Homo sapiens: one gene and its partner. The protein of the gene in region 1 purifies or fractionates together with the protein of each later gene. This does not show direct contact. Each region holds a gene or a part of one and is shown on either strand. Other genes may lie near its edges. The genes, in order: BLTP3A and MAGEA4.

Region 1 (2,966 bases):
ACTAGAGGATAAATGTCAGGAGCTGGAGACGAATGGTTGCTGAGGACATACTGCACCTGCCAATGAACTATGAAGAGGGAATCAAGGTCTTAGAAAAGATATGGTTATCTTAATCATTGACATAACTTGTGGATTTTTCTCCTTGAACTCTTCCTCCCTGTTCCCTTTACTGGCGGTTGTTGCAAGATGGTATTACCGTATTTAACTGTTAACTACTTATTGTTCCTCAGGTGAAAGAACTGCCTATCCTACAAAAAGAACTTATAGAAACTAAACAAGCCTTGGCCAATGCCAACCAGGATAAAGAAAAACTTCTTCAGGAGATTAGGAAATATAACCCCTTCTTTGAGCTCTGAAACCAGTGGCTCAGCCATCTGTGCCAAGGAGAGAGGCTATCACCAGCAATAGCACCACCTAGGACAGAGGGCACTGTCCAGTGCTGAATAAGTCACTACGGATGCCAGAGGGACTGGGGAGCACTCACTTCACTTGTGTGGGTGTGCTTTCCACTAGCTGTTCTTACTTGGACTGAGGACAAGGGCAAAGCATGATTGTATCCCAGGAAACTGGGGCTTGCCCTGTGTGTGGCACAAGCATCATGTCTTGCCTGTATAAAGCCTTTTGGTCCTCTGTGTACTAGGTGGAATCTTCTCAACACTGTAGGGCCATTTCACCTCATGGTTTCATGGCAGGGACATTTGCTTCCTTCACAGGCCTGTGTGAACAAGCAAAAGTACCCACCTCCTCGGTCACCCACAGAGCCACCAAAGATTCCATGTCCCAGAGCTTCCCATAGCAGACCTGAAAAGTCCATGACCTGAGCTTTGGCCATGGTAGTGGAGTGGAACAGGAAATAGTCCAGCAGAGGAGTGTGGGGGAAGGGGGCAGGAGAGGCACAAGAATAAGGGAGACCTGGACTCTGCCTTTTTGGGAAAAGGAACCAAGCTCATAGCAATTTGGCTGATAACACAATCAGATTTTTCCAGGTTAAGCTTCCTTTCTGTTATACTTTCATCATTGTGATGCTGTGGTAGAAAGTAAATAACAGTAGTGGCTCAGTCATTTAATCTTTCCCCTCTATAATACAACTTACTTGAAATTTAAATCAAGAAAAAATTTCTGACGCTGAGCTAGGTTGGTGGCATGATATGCCAGGGGTCAGTGGGGGAGCTTGCTTCTGAGCCCCCTGTTGTCCGCCTGGAGTCCTGCTTGTCTTTCCCAGCTGTGCTGAGTGGCTCTTCTGTCTCCCTGGGGTCCCTGGCACATCTGCTTTCCCAGCTCTGTGACCTTACCAGTTCTCTCCTCAGCCCTTGGTGGTTTGGGAGCTGAATATATGTTTTAAACTTTTACATAAACAACTCAACCTGTTGCCTCTCACTTCCCTCCATCACTGTGGCTTTTAAAACTCATGTATTTTGACTCAAGTGAAAAAAACACAAAAATCCCTCATCCCAGCTAGGTTTTGCCCCCTGCCCTATAAGAGAGCTATTTCCCCCTTTCTTTCCTTTGAATTCTTCTCCAACACCATCCCTTCATTCATACTGCCCTGTGATACACTTGAAGCTGTGTTGATTGGACAGACGTTCATCAGCTAACTTACCTTTACTTGGCAAGATGGTAAAATAGTAACTTAGTGATGTTACTAAAGTCTCGACCATTCACCTTTCCATACTGAAGGAAAGGTAAAAAGGTTTCTTCTATGGGAAATTATGCTTGACTTGCATACTCTAGTTTGATGAGGATAAAAAGAAACATGTAATTGCAGTGGTGTTTACAACTAATTGATCACAACCAATCATAGATTTCTTTGTTCCTTCTCCACTCTCAACACTTCATTTGACTAGAAAAAAAAAATGTATTCACCAAGGAACAGGACCCAATTTGTTCAGACTTTTGTTAAGTTTCTTTACTAAGGCAATTTTTGAAACACCAGTTACTATGGGATGGTGGGAATTTTTCATGCTTAAGAAATAGAGACTTAGGAACAAAGAAACATCTTTCTGGAGAAGATGCTAATGGGAAGTTACCTAAGGCTTGATGCTTGGTTCAACCTTATTTAAAATTTTTATAAATGACCTGAAAGTAGGATTTTACAGTGAAATCAAATGTCACTACTTCCAGGCAGTGAAAGGTAATCTAGAAGAGGTTTAAAAAACACAAAACCGGTCGGGCACAGCGGCTCACGCCTGTAATCCCAGCACTTTGGGAGGCCGAGGCGGGGAGATCACGAGTTCAGGAGATCGAGACCATCCTGGCCAACATGGTGAAACTTTGTTTCCACTAAAAATACAAAAATTAGCTGGGTGTGGTGGTGGGTGCCTGTAGTTCCAGCCACTCGGGAGGCTGAAGCAGGAGAATCGCTTGAACCCGGGAGGCAGAGGTTGCAGTGAGCCGAGATAGCGCCATTGCACTCCAGCCTGTCAACAGAGTGAGACTCCGTCTCACAACAAACAAACAAACACAAAACCACAGAAGGGTTACTAATAAGCAGGGCTGAGAATACTCAGAAAACTGACAGGTGAGGTTCAACATAATATAAGGAAATGTATTTATGGAAGAATTATCAACTGATATGCCTGAACACTGTTAGAACTCAGGAAAGAAACAAGCATTGCTGAGGGGGAGGAGAGATCAATGTGCTGCTGTGGCCAAAAGCCTAATTGCCCTGTGGGCATCATCAGGAAGGGCTTTTGGAGATAACAGAGAACAGCACTTTATACAAAACCATGGATATGTCTTGATCGGATTATCTGTGTTTCTAGTGACCTTATTTACAAGATATATGATAAAGGGAGGAAAGGTCCAGAGAACAGCCAAAATTATCAGGGGATGGAGGTATATCCATATGAGGACACATTTTTAAAATATAGACTCTATCCTGCAAAGATGAAAGCAGAGGGGAGTTAGATCAAATATCCAATCAAGAGCAAGGACCCGGTCCTGTACTACTAGCTCTAGGGCTCTAT
Region 2 (4,020 bases), on another chromosome or scaffold:
CTGGAGTCCGAGCTTGGGGTGGTTAGTGTAAGACTAGTGAGGGCAGGCTCTACGAGGCATCAACCTCAGGACCCTAAGAGAGGGCTAAGCGTACCCCACCCCCATTCCCATCCCCCACCCCCTCCCCTTTCCCATTACTATTTGCACTCCCAAACCCATCCGCGCCCCCATCCCCCACCAGGCTCCTATCCTCCTCAACCCCGCACCTCTCTCACACCACCATCTCCCACCCCAAAACCCGGGCCCCTCCACCAACCTCACCTCTCCCACCCCCATCCACACTGAATCAGGTTCTGCTTCCGCTTTCAACCCACCCCCAAAACGCGCCCCCTCCACCGACCTCACTCCTCCCACCCCCATCCACGCTGAATCGGGTTCTGCTTCCGCTTTCAACCCAAGAAAGCCGCAGGTGCCGGAATGTGATGCCACTGACTTGCGCATTGGGGGTTAGAGAAAAGCGAGCTGCTCTGTCTGACCAGCAGCTTGGGACTGGTGGAGGGAAGCGGGCCAGGCCCTGTGAGGAGTCAAGGTGAGACGCTGAGGGAGGACTCAGGAGGCCCCCACCGCAGATAGACAATCCCAAATAATCCCGAACCACTCATGCTCCCAGCCCTGGGCCACTCGTGGGGGGACTTCTGAGTCTGGGGCGCCCACCACCCCACTGCCTCTGAAGTCGCACGGGACTCTGCAGTCAGAGCTTGGGGTGATCAGTGCAAGACTGGTGAGGGCAGGCTCTGCCAGGCATCAACCTCAGGACTGTAAGAGAGGGCCGAGGGTCCCCCACCCCCATTCCCATCCCCCTTCCCATTCCCATCCACACTCCCAACCCCATCTACACCCTATCCCCCACCAGCACCCCTATCCTCCCCAAACCCCCACTACCCTTATGTCCTCATCCCCCACCCCAACACCACTATCCCCATCCAGGTTGAATCGCATTCCGTTTCTGCTTTCAACCCAGGGAAGCTCCAGGTTCCTGGATGTGATGCCAGTGACTTGTGCATTGGGGGTTAGAGAGACGCTAGCTTCTCAGTCTGACAGGCAGCTTGGGATTGGCAGAGGGAAGCCGGTCCAGGCTCTGTGAGGTGGCATAGTGAGAAGCTGAGGGAGAAGTCGGGAGGCCCTCTCCACCCCAGATAGACGACCCCAAATAATCCGGCACCCCTCCTGCTTCCAGTCCTGGGCCACCCGTGGGCGGACTTCTGAGTCTGGGACGCCCACCACCCCACTGCCGCTGAAGCCGCAGGGGACTATGGAGTCAGAGCTTGGTGTGATCAGTGCAGGACTGGTGGGGGTAGGCTCTGCCAGGCATCAACGTCAGGACCCTAGGAGAGGGCTGAGTGTCCCCCACCCCCATTCCTATCCCCTACCCCTTTCCCATCTGCACTCCCTACCCCATCTGTACCCCCATTCCCCACCTGTGCCCCTATCCTCCCCAACCCCCCAACCAGCCTCATACCCCCCTCCCCCACCCCTACCTTCATCCCCATCAGCGCAGCATCCGGTTCCACCCCTGCTTTCAATCCAGGCAAGCCCTGGGTGGCCGGATGTGATGCCACTGACTTGTGAATTGAGGGTTAGAGAGAAGTGAGTTTCTGGGTCTGAAGGGTGGCTTGAGATCGGCAGAGGGAAGGTGGCCCAGGCTTTGTGAAGAGGCAAAGTGAGACTCTGAGGGAGGATTCAGGAAACCCCTATCCCTGATAGAGGGTCCCAGCCCTGGACTACCCCGCGGAGGCTGACTTCTCAGACTGGGCTGCTCCCCACCTCCGCCCCCTTCGCAACGCGTTTGTTTAAGCCACAGGGGACTCTGGAGTCAGAGGTTGGTGTGATCAGGGAAGGGCTGGTTAGGAGAGGGCATGGCCCAGGCCCTGCCAGGAATCAAAGTCAGAAACCTGAGAGGGAACTGAGGTCCCCCAAGATCCTAGTCTAACCCCCACTCCCACAAATCCGCTGCCATTTCGCTGCTCCATTTCCCATTCCTTGCCCTCCACCCTCACCAGGCAGAATCCAGTTCCCCTTCTGCTATCAATCCAGGGAAACCCCAGGCTTGGTGCTGGGATGTTTTTTGGGGGTCAGAGAATCAAGGGCATAGTCCTGAGGGGCCAGTTGAGATCGGCTGAGGGGAGCGGGCCCAAGCTCTGTGGCGAGGCAAGGTGAGACTCTGAGGAAGGACTGAGGAGGCCCCCACCCAAGATAGAGGAACCCAAATAATCCAGCGCAGCTCCTGCTGCCAGTCCTGGACCACCCGGGGGAAGACTTCTCAGGCTAGGCCATCCCAGCTCCCACTGCCACTAAAGCTACAGGGGACTCTAGAGTCAAGAGCTTGGTGTGCCCAAGGCAGGGCCCAGGCTCTGCCTGGCATCGGGGTCAGGACCTTGAGAGGGAACTGAGGGCGCTACACCCCCACCCCATCCGCATTCCAACATGCCCAGCCCCATCCCCAACTCCGTTTTGCAGAATCCATTTTTTCCCCTGCAGTCAACCCCGGGAAGACCTGGGAATGGTCAGGCACTCGGATCTTGACATCCACATCGAGGGCTGAAGGAGGGAGAGGGTTTGGTATCATGAGCAGAGCCTCAGGGTAGCAGAGGGAGGACCCTGGCCCTCCTGGGAGATGAGGAAGGCCTCAGGAGACCCAGCACCCCAAGGCAGGGAGCCCACCCCACCCCGTCTGAGAATGAGGTGCCTCCTCTTTTAGCCTCAGGAATCCAAGGGATGGCAACTCAGGTCAGCAGAGGGGTGGGTTCCAAGCCCTTCCAGGATCAAGGAAAGGAAGACGAGGGAGGATTCAGGGGGCCTTGCATTCCAGATCAGTGGAGACCTGGGCCCTGGGAGGTCCTGGGCAAGGTAGCCACCTGTAGCTCATACTTCCTGCATCTTCGAGGTCACAGAGAGGAGAGGGCTATGGTCTGAGGGGTGGTACTTCAGGTCCGCAGAGGGAGGAGTCCCAGGATCTACAGGACCCAAGGTGTGCCACACTTCACGAGGAATGGGGATACCTGTGGCTCAGAAAGACGGGACCCCACAGAGTCTGGCTGTCCCCTGTTCTTAGCTCAGGGGGGACCAGAGGAGGGATGGCCCTATGTGCCAATTTCACTTGTTCCACAGGCAGGAAGTTGGGGAACCTTCAGGGAGATGAGGTTTTGGAGTAAAGGGGCAATGTTTGCTCATCTCAGGGGGTTGGGGGTTGAGGAAGGGCAGGCCCTGTCAGGAGCAAACATGAGTACCCCACAGGAGGCCATCAGAACCCTCACCCCAGAACCAAAGGGGTCAGCCCTGGGCACCCCACACAGGGGTGACAGGATGTGGCTCCTTCTCATTTCTGATTCCAGATCTCAGTGAGGTGAGGACCTTGTTCTCAGAGGGTGACTCAGGTCACCACAGGGACCCCCATCTGGTCTACAGACACAGTGGTCCCAGGATCTGCCAAGAGTCCTGGTGAGGAATGTGAGGGAGGATTGAGGGTACCACAGGGCCAGAACGCAGATGATGACCCCACAGAAATCAGCCCTGCTCCTGTTGTCACCCCAGAGAGCATGGGCTTGGCTTTCTGCTGAGGTCCCTCTCTTATCCTGGGATCACTGGTGTCACGGAGTGGGAGGCCTTGGTCTGAGGGGGCTGCACCCAGGTCAGTAGAGGGAGGGTCCCAGGCTCTGCCAGGAGTTGAGGTGAGGACCAAGCAGGCTCCGCATCCAGGACACATGGGTTCCAATGAATTTCGACATCTTTTGCTGTCGTTCTTCGGAAGACCTAGGCACAGGTGGCCAGATGTGGGGTTTCTTAGGTCCTGTTCCCTCTCAGGCATGTGAGCTCTTGATCTGAGTTTCTCAGGCCAGCAAAAGAGTGGGATCCAGGCCCTGCCTGGAGAAATGTGAGGGCCCTGAGTGAACACAGTGGGGATCATCCACTCCATGAGAGTGGGGACCTCACAGAGTCCAGCCTACCCTCTTGATGGCACTGAGGGACCGGGGCTGTGCTTACAGTCTGCACCCTAAGGGCCCATGGATTCCTCTCCTAGGA

What was found.
Region 2: the proteins of BLTP3A (region 1) and MAGEA4 purify together in Homo sapiens (co-immunoprecipitation; one large-scale study listed by IntAct). This does not show direct contact.

What each region holds. Positions count from the first base shown.
Region 1 is NC_000006.12:34,872,083-34,875,048, forward strand, and holds part of BLTP3A (bridge-like lipid transfer protein family member 3A), read left to right. Parts: intron 1-230; coding exon 231-356; 3' UTR 357-2,966. UniProt on the Homo sapiens protein: Tube-forming lipid transport protein which probably mediates the transfer of lipids between membranes at organelle contact sites. May be involved in the retrograde traffic of vesicle clusters in the endocytic pathway to the Golgi complex.
Region 2 is NC_000023.11:151,919,194-151,923,213, forward strand, and holds part of MAGEA4 (melanoma-associated antigen 4), read left to right. Parts: intron 1-399; exon of another isoform or gene 400-529; intron 530-3,332; exon of another isoform or gene 3,333-3,438; intron 3,439-4,018; exon of another isoform or gene 4,019-4,020. UniProt on the Homo sapiens protein: Regulates cell proliferation through the inhibition of cell cycle arrest at the G1 phase. Also negatively regulates p53-mediated apoptosis.